Regions from separate parts of the Homo sapiens genome. Here region 2 is linked to region 1. Evidence: fine-mapped expression QTL. Tissue or cell type: CD8 T cells. Region 1 holds a variant in brackets; the other region holds the start of a gene. All regions are shown on one strand. Distances are from middle to middle.

Region 1 (8,203 bases):
AAAGGATTTGAAATGATAACAAAAATATTTGCAATGCAAAATAAAAATTAAGCCAGTGAGAGAAAACTCTTGCCACCTTCCTGGGCAGGATCTCCTGGATGGTCTCCTTGGATGGGAGCTTGATTCGGTTAGGGTGAACCCTAGGAAATGGCATAGAGTTAAGCATGCCTGACCCACATAGGCAGCTGTTTCACAGGGTTCAACCCAATGTTGTTGGAGAGGAATGGAGCATCCCAGAGGTCATCCTTGGCAGCTCGTAGAAGCTGCTACTGAATCACTCTACAAAATGTGTGGCCTATAGAAAATGAAACCATGCTAATGCCTGCATACAATTCTGACGGGGGTAATCAGCCCTGTTAAAATAGAACAGTGTATATGACCCAACTATATGACACTCTGGAAAAGGCAAAAACTACAGAGACAGTACAAAATCAGTGGCTGCCAGAAATTTAGGGGAATGGAGGGAGGGATGAATAAGTGGAATGCAGGGAATTTGAGGGGCAGAGAAACTATTCCGCATGATACTATAATGGTAGATACATGTCATTATACATTTGTCAAAACCCCTGGAATATACAACACCAAGAGTGAACCCTAATGTAAACTATGAATTTGATTGATAATGATACGTCAGTGTTAGTTCATCAGTTATAACAAATGTACCTCATAGATGCATGCATGATGTCAAGGTGGAGAAGGCTGTGCCTTTATGGGGAAGGGGTTTTGTGAAAACTCTCTGTACTTTCCACTCAATTTTGCTGTGAAGCGAGAACTTCTCTAAATAGAAAGGTGTTGAAATGATATTAAGGGCCACTACATGGGGAATTTTCAGGTGTTGGGAGTGTTAGTGTACCCCAGAAGCCCAGCAGAGGATCATTGTGCTGTCAGGACCTATTGTGATCAGATAGCACCAGAGCCAAAAAGTATGGTAGGTTTTGAGCACAGCTGCCACCAGCACAAACCCCCCACCACCCTTTCCACATGGAACTGGCTGGCCTGCAGCAGCAGGCACTCAGTCAGCACATGTTAAATGCACAGGCACTTTTGGACCCTGCTTGCACTCACTATAGCAACAAGGTCAGCAGGCCACCTTGCCTTCCGCGGAGCCCACCAACTCATGGTGCCCTTTGGATCTCTTTCCCGCTACAGGGCATCCAGATGGTGTGTGAGACGTTGACTGAGTGCTGGGACCACGACCCAGAGGCCCGTCTCACAGCCCAGTGTGTGGCAGAACGCTTCAGTGAGCTGGAGCATCTGGACAGGCTCTCGGGGAGGAGCTGCTCGGAGGAGAAGATTCCTGAAGACGGCTCCCTAAACACTACCAAATAGCTCTTCTGGGGCAGGCTGGGCCATGTCCAAAGAGGCTGCCCCTCTCACCAAAGAACAGAGGCAGCAGGAAGCTGCCCCTGAACTGATGCTTCCTGGAAAACCAAGGGGGTCACTCCCCTCCCTGTAAGCTGTGGGGATAAGCAGAAACAACAGCAGCAGGGAGTGGGTGACATAGAGCATTCTATGCCTTTGACATTGTCATAGGATAAGCTGTGTTAGCACTTCCTCAGGAAATGAGATTGATTTTTACAATAGCCAATAACATTTGCACTTTATTAATGCCTGTATATAAATATGAATAGCTATGTTTTATATATATATATATATATCTATATATGTCTATAGCTCTATATATATAGCCATACCTTGAAAAGAGACAAGGAAAAACATCAAATATTCCCAGGAAATTGGTTTTATTGGAGAACTCCAGAACCAAGCAGAGAAGGAAGGGACCCATGACAGCATTAGCATTTGACAATCACACATGCAGTGGTTCTCTGACTGTAAAACAGTGAACTTTGCATGAGGAAAGAGGCTCCATGTCTCACAGCCAGCTATGACCACATTGCACTTGCTTTTGCAAAATAATCATTCCCTGCCTAGCACTTCTCTTCTGGCCATGGAACTAAGTACAGTGGCACTGTTTGAGGACCAGTGTTCCCGGGGTTCCTGTGTGCCCTTATTTCTCCTGGACTTTTCATTTAAGCTCCAAGCCCCAAATCTGGGGGGCTAGTTTAGAAACTCTCCCTCAACCTAGTTTAGAAACTCTACCCCATCTTTAATACCTTGAATGTTTTGAACCCCACTTTTTACCTTCATGGGTTGCAGAAAAATCAGAACAGATGTCCCCATCCATGCGATTGCCCCACCATCTACTAATGAAAAATTGTTCTTTTTTTCATCTTTCCCCTGCACTTATGTTACTATTCTCTGCTCCCAGCCTTCATCCTTTTCTAAAAAGGAGCAAATTCTCACTCTAGGCTTTATCGTGTTTACTTTTTCATTACACTTGACTTGATTTTCTAGTTTTCTATACAAACACCAATGGGTTCCATCTTTCTGGGCTCCTGATTGCTCAAGCACAGTTTGGCCTGATGAAGAGGATTTCAACTACACAATACTATCATTGTCAGGACTATGACCTCAGGCACTCTAAACATATGTTTTGTTTGGTCAGCACAGCGTTTCAAAAAGTGAAGCCACTTTATAAATATTTGGAGATTTTGCAGGAAAATCTGGATCCCCAGGTAAGGATAGCAGATGGTTTTCAGTTATCTCCAGTCCACGTTCACAAAATGTGAAGGTGTGGAGACACTTACAAAGCTGCCTCACTTCTCACTGTAAACATTAGCTCTTTCCACTGCCTACCTGGACCCCAGTCTAGGAATTAAATCTGCACCTAACCAAGGTCCCTTGTAAGAAATGTCCATTCAAGCAGTCATTCTCTGGGTATATAATATGATTTTGACTACCTTATCTGGTGTTAAGATTTGAAGTTGGCCTTTTATTGGACTAAAGGGGAACTCCTTTAAGGGTCTCAGTTAGCCCAAGTTTCTTTTGCTTATATGTTAATAGTTTTACCCTCTGCATTGGAGAGAGGAGTGCTTTACTCCAAGAAGCTTTCCTCATGGTTACCGTTCTCTCCATCATGCCAGCCTTCTCAACCTTTGCAGAAATTACTAGAGAGGATTTGAATGTGGGACACAAAGGTCCCATTTGCAGTTAGAAAATTTGTGTCCACAAGGACAAGAACAAAGTATGAGCTTTAAAACTCCATAGGAAACTTGTTAATCAACAAAGAAGTGTTAATGCTGCAAGTAATCTCTTTTTTAAAACTTTTTGAAGCTACTTATTTTCAGCCAAATAGGAATATTAGAGAGGGACTGGTAGTGAGAATATCAGCTCTGTTTGGATGGTGGAAGGTCTCATTTTATTGAGATTTTTAAGATACATGCAAAGGTTTGGAAATAGAACCTCTAGGCACCCTCCTCAGTGTGGGTGGGCTGAGAGTTAAAGACAGTGTGGCTGCAGTAGCATAGAGGCGCCTAGAAATTCCACTTGCAC[C/T]GTAGGGCATGCTGATACCATCCCAATAGCTGTTGCCCATTGACCTCTAGTGGTGAGTTTCTAGAATACTGGTCCATTCATGAGATATTCAAGATTCAAGAGTATTCTCACTTCTGGGTTATCAGCATAAACTGGAATGTAGTGTCAGAGGATACTGTGGCTTGTTTTGTTTATGTTTTTTTTTCTTATTCAAGAAAAAAGACCAAGGAATAACATTCTGTAGTTCCTAAAAATACTGACTTTTTTCACTACTATACATAAAGGGAAAGTTTTATTCTTTTATGGAACACTTCAGCTGTACTCATGTATTAAAATAGGAATGTGAATGCTATATACTCTTTTTATATCAAAAGTCTCAAGCACTTATTTTTATTCTATGCATTGTTTGTCTTTTACATAAATAAAATGTTTATTAGATTGAATAAAGCAAAATACTCAGGTGAGCATCCTGCCTCCTGTTCCCATTCCTAGTAGCTAAATCCATTTGCCTCATTTGGTTATTTTGCAATTTATGCAGAAAACGTCACCAAGTAAATAATCTCCAACTTTTTCATACTGTCTTTCTCAACTGACAGTCTCACAGTCCTTAAAAAAAAAAAAAAAAAAAAAAAAAAGTCACAGAAGCTCAGTAATATGAGATGAAGCAGATGCTGCTCATGGCCTGCCTGCCATGCTGGCGTCCTGGCATGATGTCCCTCTGAATGCCCAGAAGACCTCTTCCCACAGTCTCAGGAGCTGCCTCTATCCACATGGCTGTTTCTTGCAGGGATTTTCACAGCCAGTGTTTCTACCGCTTCTTCTATTTTCTCTATTCCTCATACTAGCAAGCTGTTGGCTCTCTTCTTGACTCTTGTCATATTCCATGCTTCCCTTTTCTACCCAGATACCACATCCATTTGGTGCTTTTAATTGATTTACATGAATGGTGAGATGAATATGCCTTAGGAAATTGTCTCCTGGTCATTTCTTGTGACAAAGTGCACGAGATTTTCTGCCTGAACTTCATGCTACCTGTTTTGGAATCTGAGAGATTCTGTAGCTTCTTCTTAGTTATCGACTGGGTTCTAAATAGTTAATGTCATAGTGCCTGCACCAGGGTATTTCAACCTTAGCACTGCTGACTTATTTTTGCATTGGATAATTGTGTGTTGGGAGGGAGGGAAGCCGTCCTGTGCACTGTGGGATGTTTAGCAGTATCCCTCGCCTCCACCCACTAGATGCCAGTAGCACCCACCCCACAGCTGTGACAACCAAAAATTTCTCCAGACATTGCCAAATGTCCCCTGAAAGACAAAGTTCCTCTCAGTGGAGAATCACTGAGCTAGATGATGTGGTCCTACTGTGGGCCTTAGTTATAGTCTTGTCTTTATTAGTAGCAATTTTAGTGGTTACTAACTGTAGAGGTTACCTGCTCCTCTATTTGCCAGCTTTGTGATCTGGGCAAATTACTTAACCTCTCCATGCCTCAGTTTCATCATGTGTAAAATGAGATTTTACAAGCCTCATCCTATACAAGATAAAATTGTGGTAAGAAGACACATTAGGCTTTTGAAGATGGGTCTTGAACTTTTTGGAAAGCCTTCACTACATGCTGGCCAGTGTTAAGTTGGTTTAGTATGCCAAGGACTGCTTAGGCAAAGAAGCAGATTTTTAGGTACAAACCTAGAGAGCATTTACAACAGAGGAAAATGGGTACAGTCCCCAGGTCTGCAGGACAGGAAACGTGGGTCCTGTGTGAACACATAATCGGGGGAGAGCGCTCATTCACTGAGTACTCGCTATGCCATCGGATTGAATCCTCCACTAGCTCGGTGAGGTACATACTATGCCCATTTAACAGATGAGGAAACAGATGGTCAGAGAGCTCAGATAAGAAGCCCAGGGTCTCACCATGTAGAATCTGGATGCAGGGCCAAGTTGTCTTGGAACTGGAATTTGGAACACCTGACATGCTTGGTTCTTTATTTCCTGCTGTTTCCTGAGGGAACTGACCTGCCCAAGCAGGACCAAAAGGCTACCCCATGAAGAAAAGCTCTGCTACTGGATCATTGTTCTCATCTCTCTCTGGGTCTCTGCTCAGTGGAGGCAGAAAAGGTGCTTTTCCATTTCTATTGCCTGACTTCCTCTCCATTCACATGGTAAGTGTTGTCTACATGCTTGCTGAGAGAACAACTGGAAGATGAGTGAATGTGTGTAGACTGTGTTTCCTAATGTGTGAAATGTGTACTGGTATCTGAGATGATTTAAGATTGTGCCACCTTTATAAAAATAGATCCACCTTTATTTTAGTGGATCATTAACATACATTAGAAAAAAATCATTAACACAGCCTGGGCTTTCACAAATAATATTGCTTGAAATATGGCTGAGTTTAAAAACTTGAATTGATTATTAAAATACATTAAGTAGACGACACTCATGCATGACAACTACAGGAGGTGTTAATAGGAATAATTGAAGTTAGGGAGCTCTACCCAAGGAGGCAAATTCATATTAATTCCTAACATTTATTGAGTACTTGGTAAGTGCCAAACACTATTCTCTGTTTTACCTTATCTGCTTAAATCCTCTCAACAACCCTGCGAAGTATCTTACCTCCATCTTATAGAGGAGGAAACTGAGGCAGAGAGCAAGGTCTAGCTAAGGGTCGCAATCATTAGCATGAGAATTTGAACTGAAGCAGTTGGACTCCAGGGATCAAACCCCCACCTTGAACACAAGATAAAGCTGGAGTTAGGGGGTAACAACGTGGAGCCTCTGGAGAGCTCAAGGGTTTTTGATTCAACAGTCCAAAATGAGGAGGCAGATGCAGTTAGCACTGGAGAGGAGGGAGTTACCCATGAGGGAACCCAGGGAGGAAAAGTTATTCCTCAAATGCACATGGGCTCCGGGCTGCAGCCCAAGAGCTTCAGCCAAAACAGGAGCCAAGGTCTTCTAACCCCTCTCCCTTCTTCCACGCTTTGTTTTGCTGGGGTTATTTTAGTTCTTGCTACTGCAAGGTCAGGAACATTCCCAACTGGCAATTGGTCTCCAAGTGCCCTCAGCATGGACTCAGTCCCTTGCACCAGTCAGCATCCTTTGAATGCAGTCTATATTTGTGCCCAGGAGTTTCTATTTGTGGTGGCTGTTTTTGTTTTAAGCTCTCTATGCAAATGACACACTAATGGTCTGGTCCTAAGGGAAATTCTGTCTTCAGGTGACAGAGAACTTTTCATTTAAACAAGTGTATCTATCCTTTTTCACTAAAGCCACTACAGTCGGCATCTGCTCATTTTGTTCATTTTCCTCCTGAAATAGGTTAGCTAATCATTGCTTATCACATTTCCAACTAGTTTCTTTTTTTTTACTTGAATAACTATAGCTCCACCCTCTATGGGTTTGGGGCCATGCCTTTCAGGCCTACTTTGCAAACTGTGCTGATAAAAGACAAGATTGTGAACTTGCCCACATTACATGGGCTGCCAATCAGCCTCACATGGTGTAATTTAATTCTAATACGCCTCCTGATCTTTGGTGCATTTAAAAATAACTTGTTAATAGTCTTCCTATTCTAATTAAGCTAAAATTGCACACACTGTGAAATGCTTGCTCTCTTGCTCTCTCATGCTCTCTCTCTCTCTCTACACACACACACACACACACACACACACACACACACACAATTGATCCTTAAAAATCATTTCTGTAAACTGCCTGTGTAGCACAGTGCTTCTGAAATTCTCCTGTGTCTTCCCCTGACCTATGCCCACAATGATAGACAATAGAATAAAATAACTGTGGCCCTGGTACCCTAGGTCCATTAAAATATTCATAATAAATTGTCTAAACATTGATAACAAAGTGGTTAAAATTGGAACCTCTAGAGCCAAATCTCCTGGGTTCAAATCCCAGCTCTGCCACTAACTGTAACTTTGTGTAAGTCTTTTAACTGTTTTTATTTCCTGGTTTCTTAATGTGTAGAAGGAGGATAATGATGAGATCTACTTGGGAAAGTTGTAAGAGTTAAATGAAATACTGGTTTTTTAAATGGTTAGAACAGAGACTGATGCACATAAGTATTCATTATTATAATTCAGTTTTTGCATTCTTTAAAGTGAAGCTGTGTTGTTGCAGTATTTTAAGGATATATTGTTCCCCAAATTTTTGGGTAAAATTGACTGTTAAGGAAGATGAGTCATGTTTAAACTGTAATTGTGAGTAGACCACCCTTTATCCTTGAAGGGCTTTCTCAACCAGGTGAATGGCATGGCTGTGGTGGGAAATACAGGGCCCTGTGAGACAGGAAATCTAGGGGGTTGTCTAGCTCCATTACCATCCTCTTCTTTTATGGATTCAGTGTCTTGTTCTTTTGTTCCATGTGAGAATCATCCCTGCCCTGCCTACGTTATAAAGCTGGAGAAAAATGAAATAAGTAAAAACACATGGAAAACGTACTAAAATATTAATGCAAGGATGCAAGGTATAATCTTTGCTGGAACATTAGTTCCTCATTTATTAGTAACATTACAGGCATTTGAAATTATGTACTTTATATGGGACCTATATTTTAAATATATGCTAATCATCCTAGAAGCCCTACAAGGTAGGTGTTACTTTTTTCCATTTTACCATTAAGGAAATTATCCAGGTTTACACAACTTGAACCCAGGTCTCTGTCAGTAAAAAACTGTCTACTCTTCCAAACCATTTTATCTATCCATATTTATTTCCTCCATCAAACATTAGTTGAATGCAATGTGGTGTATCACCCAAGGTCGGCTGGCATCTTGAAAACAATAACTATGTGTTACTCAGCATCTTAGCACCTAGC
Region 2 (8,168 bases), 88 kb before region 1:
TCTCTCTATTGAAGACAAGAAACACACACTGAATACTGATTATCTGTAGAGCACGGAGTGTGGTTCTACATTGAAAAAGGAATATTTTGTGCTTTTAAGGGCTTTACAATCATTAGGGTAGAATTCTAAAAAGCAAATAAATAACAATAATGTACTCCATGTTAGAATGGGGCAAACATTTTTTTTTAAAAAAAGGCTAAATAAACGAAATGTTCCCTGGGTTATCCCTGGGAAAGGAGTGATCACAGTAGGTGAAGCATCACAAAATATTTCCTGGAGGAGGTAGCATCATGGATGACCCACAAAGGGTGGATGACCCTCACAAATTAACTACAGTCTCAGTGCTTATTGGTTTGCTTCACAATAAAAGGAAAATTGGTCAAGAGATAAGAGCTGAGAATGAGGCTGGTTAATTTATAAGGAGAGGAATCTCCCTGTTAACTGCTCTAGCTGACAGTAACCTCAACAGCTGCATGTCACAAAGCTCAGGGGAGTAGGAAGTTCTTCTCTCATCACAACTGAGAAACCCAACGTTTAAATAAACCACAATTTGATTCAGTTCAATTGTGTGTGTTTGTGTGTGCGTGCAGAGTTTAAAAAGCTGGTAAAATAGATTGTCAGCTTTTAAAATTTCTGTTCAAGTTGATATTTATTGTTTTTCAACTCATTAAGGGCTTAAACGTTACCTTCCTTGTTTTTTAAACCCTGAGTCGGGCTATTATTTTTTTGTTCCCATTTGCAAATGGCCCAGTTTTTTACATGTATATATTAACTGCTTATGTGAATACACAAAATATTATACTAAGCCAAATATACAACTATGTGTGAAAATGATGTCTTGATTAAGGGTATCAGACATCCCTTTCAACAAGAATTTCAAAAGGAAGGGCATCATGACAATTTTTTTTTCTTTTTCTTTTATTTATTTTTTGTTTTTGAGACAGGGTCTCATTCTGTCTTCTAGGCTGAAGTGCAGTGGCACAATCATGGCTCACTGCAGCGTTCGTCTCCTGGGCTCAAGTGATTCTCCCACCTCAGCCTCCTGAGTAGTTGGCACTATAGATACATGCCAACATGCCTGGCTTTTTTTTTTTTTTTTTTTTTTTTAGTAAAGATGAAATCTCACTATGTTGCTTAGGCTGGTCTCGAACTCCTGGGCTCAAGTAATCCTCCCATCTAGACCTCCCAAAGTGCTGGGATTACAGGTGTGGACCACTGCACTCAGCCTGATGAATTTTTAAAATTATCAAATTGCAATATGCATGAGTTTACACATCTATTATTTTTATTATGATGATTTTCAAAAGGCTAGCTTGCACTTGGCAATGCTGAATTCTGATTCTTCTCAATTTCACAGGAGACTGGAGATTAAATCAGAAATGTTAAGGGCAAACAAAATTAAAATCAACATTAATGATGTATCATGGCAAAGACCACCAGTTAAACATTCCACCATAGATTTAAATATCTAGCCTCCAACAATGTAAAACATCTTTGTGATAATTAAGGAAAACAAAGCTTTTGGAATCTATTGGACATTTATTTGCCACATTGTGTTTTCAGGAGAAAGAAAGTACATGTTTGCTATCTGGAGGAACTTGGGCAAATGTAGGAAAAAAAAAAGAAGAAGAAAGAAACCCACATACTTCTCCATTCTTAAGAAAAGGAAGTAGTGGTGACATCATTCTCGGCTAAAATGTAGTCTGTTTATATCTCAAATATTCGGTAACAATGTTTTCTCCAGAGTTATGAAGCAACTAGAACAATCAAATACAATTTTCTTCTAAATCTTTATTGCCTGATTCATTCATTCATCCAACAAATATTTATTAAACATCGATTATGTGTTTGATGCTTAGGGACACAATAGTAAGTGGAGGGAAAGATACATAATACCTGCCCTCAAGAAATTTGGAGTTGAGTGGAGGATAGAAATATAAATTAAAGAATGACACAAATAATTATAAAGTTACAGCTGTTAAAAGAAAAGCATATGGTGCCAAGAGAACGTGTAATACAAGATCTACTCATGGAGGTGAGGGAAAGCTTGCCCATCAAAGAAGTTATGATTCAATCCACGAAGACCAGGAGTTGGCTGGGTGAAGAAAAAAAGGTCAGAGGAAGGAAGTCCACACTGGGGAAGGCTCTAAGCATAAAGGGTAGGAGGATTACAGAGGCATATTCACGAAATTTGGAGAAGGCTTTCAGTAAGCAAGGAGAAGCCAAATGAAAGTTTACGGGAGAGTTGGAGGCTTGAAGACACGTTCAAGGATCTGGTTTTTATCTTCTCTTTATCTCAAGAGCAGTGGGAAGCCATTAAATGATTTTAATCAGAGGGTTGGTATAACTAGTTTTGTATTTTGAAAAGCTGAATTCAGCTCTCGTTTGAGAAACTGAGTGAAAGAGCCCAGAACGGCCGTGGCTGAGGGTGACTCGTGGGAGACTCCTACACAAGCCATGGCAGTGGCATGGGCTGGTGGCAGAAGAGGGAATAGGGAGAAGATTTGGAACTCAATCTTCCTCCATTGACAAAGTCACTCCAGCTTTGGCAAGGCAATTAATTGGTGGGAAAGAAGATGCCTAGCCCTCCTGATTTCACTGCACTTTCTGCATCTTCAACATGAGTACTGGGAAGTGGCAAAACATCCAGAGGCAGCTTGGGTGCTAGGTGGAGCATGAGTTAAAATTCCAGGATGAAGCAAATGAACACTTAGAATGACAGGAAAGATTTGGGAGTTGGGTTTGGGGGAGGGCTATTTACCTTTATTCCCTGGAGACCCTGGCACAAACCCTTGCCTCTGCAATCTTCCTCTCAGGTAAAGGAATTCATTAAATGAATTGCTAGAAGATCTACTGACCAGAGGGCTGTACAGAATCATATCTTTGAGAGTGGGAAGTAGGTTGATCACATAGTTTATTATCCAATCAGGACATATCTGAAAGAGAAAGGGGGTTCTATTAATATTTAAACTACAAAACATGTACACCAGGAATGTCTTGGGCAAATCTGGTTGCCCTAGCAAGAAAGGAAATTTGAAAGTTTATACTGTTCTGCTCCCATGTTACCCCGTTTGCACATGAGAGGGTAAGTATTCTCTTTCTTCACCTGCATTAAGGGAATAAAAGCACAAGCATTCAGGTGACTCCCAACCCACTTTTAATTTTACAGTTTCTGCTATACTCTATACATTCTGAAAATTACATTTCCCACCACTATCACTTCGTGATAGGTGATCATTTACAATTACTCACTGACTCAGTCCCGGGAAGAGGCGGTGCAAAATGGGACGCTCTATCCAGGTGCTCATTAGAAATGCAGAATCTCTGCCTGCCTCCTAGACCTACTGAATTAGAATCTGCATTTTTAAATAAGATTTCCAGGTGATCAATATGTACATTAAAACTTGAGAAAAACCTCTAGACTTCGACCTAAAGAAAAACATTTTACAACTTGACAGTGTATGCACATACATACATGCATATAGACACAACTGAAGCACAAATTTAATGAAGTAGAATTTACCGTTACTATTTTATTTGGGAAAGAAATGTGCTCGCGACTCAATAGATTGGAGTATTCACTCCTGGATCTCAACTTGCAATTTGAAAACGCATCTCTAAAGCACCTAGGAGCAATCTGAAGAAAGCTGAGGGGAGGCGGCAGATGTTCTGATCTACTAGGGAAAACGTGGACGTTTTCTGTTGTTACTTTGTGAACTGTGTGCACTTAGTCATTCTTGAGTAAATACTTGGAGCGAGGAACTCCTGAGTGGTGTGGGAGGGCGGTGAGGGGCAGCTGAAAGTCGGCCAAAGCTCTCGGAGGGGCTGGTCTAGGAAACATGATTGGCAGCTACGAGAGAGCTAGGGGCTGGACGTCGAGGAGAGGGAGAAGGCTCTCGGGCGGAGAGAGGTCCTGCCCAGCTGTTGGCGAGGAGTTTCCTGTTTCCCCCGCAGCGCTGAGTTGAAGTTGAGTGAGTCACTCGCGCGCACGGAGCGACGACACCCCCGCGCGTGCACCCGCTCGGGACAGGAGCCGGACTCCTGTGCAGCTTCCCTCGGCCGCCGGGGGCCTCCCCGCGCCTCGCCGGCCTCCAGGCCCCCTCCTGGCTGGCGAGCGGGCGCCACATCTGGCCCGCACATCTGCGCTGCCGGCCCGGCGCGGGGTCCGGAGAGGGCGCGGCGCGGAGGCGCAGCCAGGGGTCCGGGAAGGCGCCGTCCGCTGCGCTGGGGGCTCGGTCTATGACGAGCAGCGGGGTCTGCCATGGGTCGGGGGCTGCTCAGGGGCCTGTGGCCGCTGCACATCGTCCTGTGGACGCGTATCGCCAGCACGATCCCACCGCACGTTCAGAAGTCGGGTGAGTGGTCCCCAGCCCGGGCTCGGCGGGGCGCCGGGGGTCTTCCTGGGGTCCCCGCCTCTCCGCTGCGCTTGACAGTCGGGCCCGGCAACCCGGCCCCCGGGCGGAAACGAGGAAAGTTTCCCCCGCGACACTCACGCAGCCCGACTCCCGTAGCTGCAGGGATTGTGAGTTTTTCTTGAAAAAGAGAAGGAAAGTTCAGTTGCAAGGGGCGCGGGGCACGTTTGGTCCCCTTTGTGCGAGCAGGAAAGGCGTTGTGTTGGCCGCGTTCGAGGCGAGCCCCCACCCCCGGAAAGGGAAGTTTGAGAAGTTGGTTATCTGAAGGCGGCCGGGGAGCAGCGGCCCGGAGCGGCAGCCTGAGCTGCCAAAGCAGCCAGCGCACCTGGGCCACTCCGCCCATGGCGATGCCGCGTGCCCACCCAGCTCTTTCTGAGCCACCCGTTCAAAAGGCCAGCTCCTCAGTCCTTAGCTCCTGGAGACGGCCACGCTTTCCCTCAGGCCGGCTTCTTGGCCCGGAGTTTTTGGAAACAAGTTTCAAGAAAATAATCGATTTCCAAAAGAAAGTTAGCTGGCTCCACTGACGCCTTGGCATGGATGGATAGGGAGTGGAGATGCTCAGGTGAAACCGAGAATCCCTCACTGAATGCCTACTGGGTGCTAGAGGCTGTAGATTTTGCCTGGAACAAGATAGTCCTGTCTTCAGGGAGTTGATGGTTCTATGCAATTATCGTTTGTTGGAAACCGAAGGGTTAAAATCCTAACTAGGCTACCCACCTGATCGCTGTCTCTGAAGGTTTTTAAGGAAAAAATAAAAATAAAAAAATATATATATATATTATATATATATAAATATATATATAATTATATATATAAATATATATAATATTAATATATATATGCATGCAGGAATGGGGGTTCTTAACTATTTGTTATGGAAAGTGTAAAACCTCTGAGACTTCAAAAGTTAGATTTTTTTTTTTTGGAGACGGAGTCTCGCTCTGTCACCAGGCTGGAGTGCAGTGGCGCAATCTCGGCTCACTGCAACTTTGCCTCTGGGTTCAAGCGATTCTCCTGCCTTAGCCTCCCGAGTAGCTGGGATTACAGGCGCGTGCCACCACGCCCAGCTAATTTTTGTATTTTTAGTAGAGACGGGGTTTCACCATATTGGCCAGGGTGGTCTCGATCTCTTGACCTCGTGATCCGCCCACCTTGGCCTCCCAAAGTGCTGGGATTACAGGCGTGAGCCACCGCGCCCGGCCAAAAGTTAGACTTTTTGCAGCTATGATCCAAATAACAGTATCTGCAGCTGTGGTCTGGGTAACCGAGTATTTGGGCAAGTCATAGAGCTTTTTCTGGGCCTTAGTTTCCTCATCTGTAAAATGGCCAGCTTGAATCTGGGTAATTTTACATCATCTTCATGTTTAACATCTTACGTATCGTGCCCCTCCCCTCCTTTCCCCTGGCTCTTCTGGTGACTTGGAGATGACCCATGTAGACTTTGGATGAAATGTAGAGGAGTTGACAGTCCACATCACCCGGAGGCACTCATTTTATTTATCCAGGGACATGGGCAGATTTACCTTTAGGTTTGTCTAGAAAAAATGCGCATCACGGTCAGTTGTAAATTTTAGAGTGTTTGAAGTGGATTGGGAACTTTTTAAAAATTATGGCATACATTGAAGGTGGCATGGAGATGGAAGCTTTTAATCAAATTAGGAAGAGGCACTATTGCAAGCAAAAAGTCTTGACACACATTTGAGTCCTATGGTTTTAATAAAATCTTAGTGTTTCGTTCTTGGCGTTTTTCCTGCATTGCAGTACCAGAATGTTCAATTGTCTCTCATTTTCCTCCAGACTTTTAAAACCTAAGTGACATTTTGCTAATAAATATTTAAAATGGCACCCTTAATTTTCTGTGGATGTTAAAAATCATTACAACTTTTGTTCCAGATTATAAAAGAAGGAAATTAGCAGGCCCTGATGTTGTTAGTTAGGTTCTGTTTACAAGGATAAGGTTTATGATTTGCAAATTCCAGACCCAATAGTTCACGAGTCACTTTCATTTCATCAATATACACACTTTTAAACAATTAGCTTAAAAACGTGGTGGCTTTTTATTTGGGTATTTAGACAGTTTTACAAGGCCCACAGATTTCATATTTTTATAGAACTGAAGTTTCAAAATGGTTGAATTAATGAATCATTTTGAATTTGTATTCATTTGATTCAAATTAAATTTTCAAAGTTGGCCAATGGTTGAAGACAGATATATTGAAGACGAGAAACCTAATTCTACTTACATTTTAATTTTTCATGTAAGTAAATAGTTTCAGAATTTCTCTAACGTAATTGGTAAACTGAAAACATTTTTTCAAAATATCTTAATGCAAGATAATATATCAGGTAATGAGATTGTTTAATAAACAACAAGCTCCTTTTACGTCACCTAAAAAGGCCCAAAAATCTGTCTTCTGTTTAGTAGCTTCTGTACTTCTGTTTAGTAGTATGCAAAGGATTTAAATAAAAGAACAAATTTCACTAAGAAATAGAAAGTTTTTTTTTCTTCGTTTTTGACTTAATAGATTCACTCTTCCTAAATGATCAAAATTAAGAAATGACTCTTTTGGGGAAAACTGTAAAGTGCACAATAACTCTTCAGGTCTGAAAAATATGACTTTTCAGGTTCCTGGAAGTAGATAGATTCTTATTGAGGACAAAGAATTTGTAAAAGTGTCATAGTGATCAGGTTCTTCACATCACTTTAATAACCTGCTTATTTTGTCAGGGTAAGAGACTAGACATCATTAGGCCCCAAATCTGATCTTCAGTCTACTCGTGCTTTTTTTCCGCCTCATAAAAACACATTTCCACCTTTAGGCCACTCAACATCTTATTTTTAATGAGTTATGATTTATACAAAATACTAATCACATTTTGAACTCATTGCCTTCTTTTCAATGTAGCATTCCCTAATGATGACTGTTGTCTATGTAGTCAACATAACTACTACATGTTTTCTACTCAGTTATGAACATGACTTTTTAATTTTTTCAGTAAGGTTAGTTTTTAACTCTGGATCAATAAGGCACCTCTGATATCATTGCAAAAACTGGGCATTTTTTCTTCTACCTTTTCAACCATATTTATTGAGTATCTCTTGCCAGGCAGGATGCTCAGACCTGGGATACCATCTCAGATGAATAAGACAGACCTGGTCTTTGCCATTGAATTTAACAGCTGGGAGCATGTTATAAGTAAAGAAAAGGATACGTGTTTTAACTGTTTATATTTGAAAGCATTATGGAATACTGGTGTTTTATTTTCTACACCTCATTTTCAAAAGCCTCATTTTTTTTTGTTGTTGTATGCACTAGGAGGATGTGCATGTTGAATGTTTCCTTCTAGGTCCCATTGAATGTATTTTTGAATCAATTTGTTGTCTCTTTCCTATCCCTGCCTTGTCACGGAGCCCCAGTTGGGCAGCCTTTAATTGCATTCTCCATTCCATAGCCAGCATGATGGACCCAATGCGTTCATTTAGTGCTCTCTTTGAGGATAGGCTGGTGGTAGAAGAGTGTAGGGTATAAACTTTGGAATCAGGCCGTCCTGGGTTCCAGACCCACTTGCCATGTACTGGCTGTGTAGCCTGTTGTAGTTGCTTTACCTACTAGTCATCCCTGGTCTCATTTGTAAAATGAGGATTATGGAGTTATGGTGAGGATTAAATAAAATATTGTTTTAAAGTATTTAACATGGTGCCTGCAACATAGTAAATGCTCAATAAATATCAGCTTCTGTTATTACTATTAACTC

Alleles and levels. Alleles are on the strand shown, and positions count from the first base shown. SD is a standard deviation of normalised expression in the study named.
With allele T in place of C in region 1, the expression in CD8 T cells of the gene that starts at base 3,979 in region 2 is lower (moderate effect, 0.52 SD a copy in CEDAR).

Evidence for each region. PIP is the estimated chance that this variant, and not a neighbour inherited with it, causes the effect.
Region 2: TGFBR2 starts here. The variant in region 1 is fine-mapped to the expression of TGFBR2 in CD8 T cells (CEDAR, PIP 0.95). The same link has a PIP of 0.9 or more in B cells, CD4 T cells, monocytes and neutrophils.

Annotation. Positions count from the first base shown.
Region 1 is chr3:30,690,271-30,698,473 of GRCh38, forward strand. TGFBR2 (transforming growth factor beta receptor 2) reads left to right here. Exons shown (of 7, transcript NM_003242.6): 7 at 1,150-3,872. The coding sequence ends at 1,329. Among named protein-coding and RNA genes, the nearest start is that of TGFBR2, 88 kb to the left of the region's middle. The variant C/T (reference allele first, on the strand shown) is at 3,394.
Region 2 is chr3:30,602,623-30,610,790 of GRCh38, forward strand. It overlaps TGFBR2 (transforming growth factor beta receptor 2), which reads left to right and starts at 3,979. Exons shown (of 7, transcript NM_003242.6): 1 at 3,979-4,355. The coding sequence starts at 4,262. It overlaps LOC105377015 (translation initiation factor IF-2-like), which reads right to left and starts at 4,302. Exons shown (of 2, transcript XM_047449400.1): 1 at 3,524-4,302; 2 at 1,777-2,936. The coding sequence starts at 4,302. The coding sequence ends at 3,862. RefSeq lists a silencer at 4,053-4,152.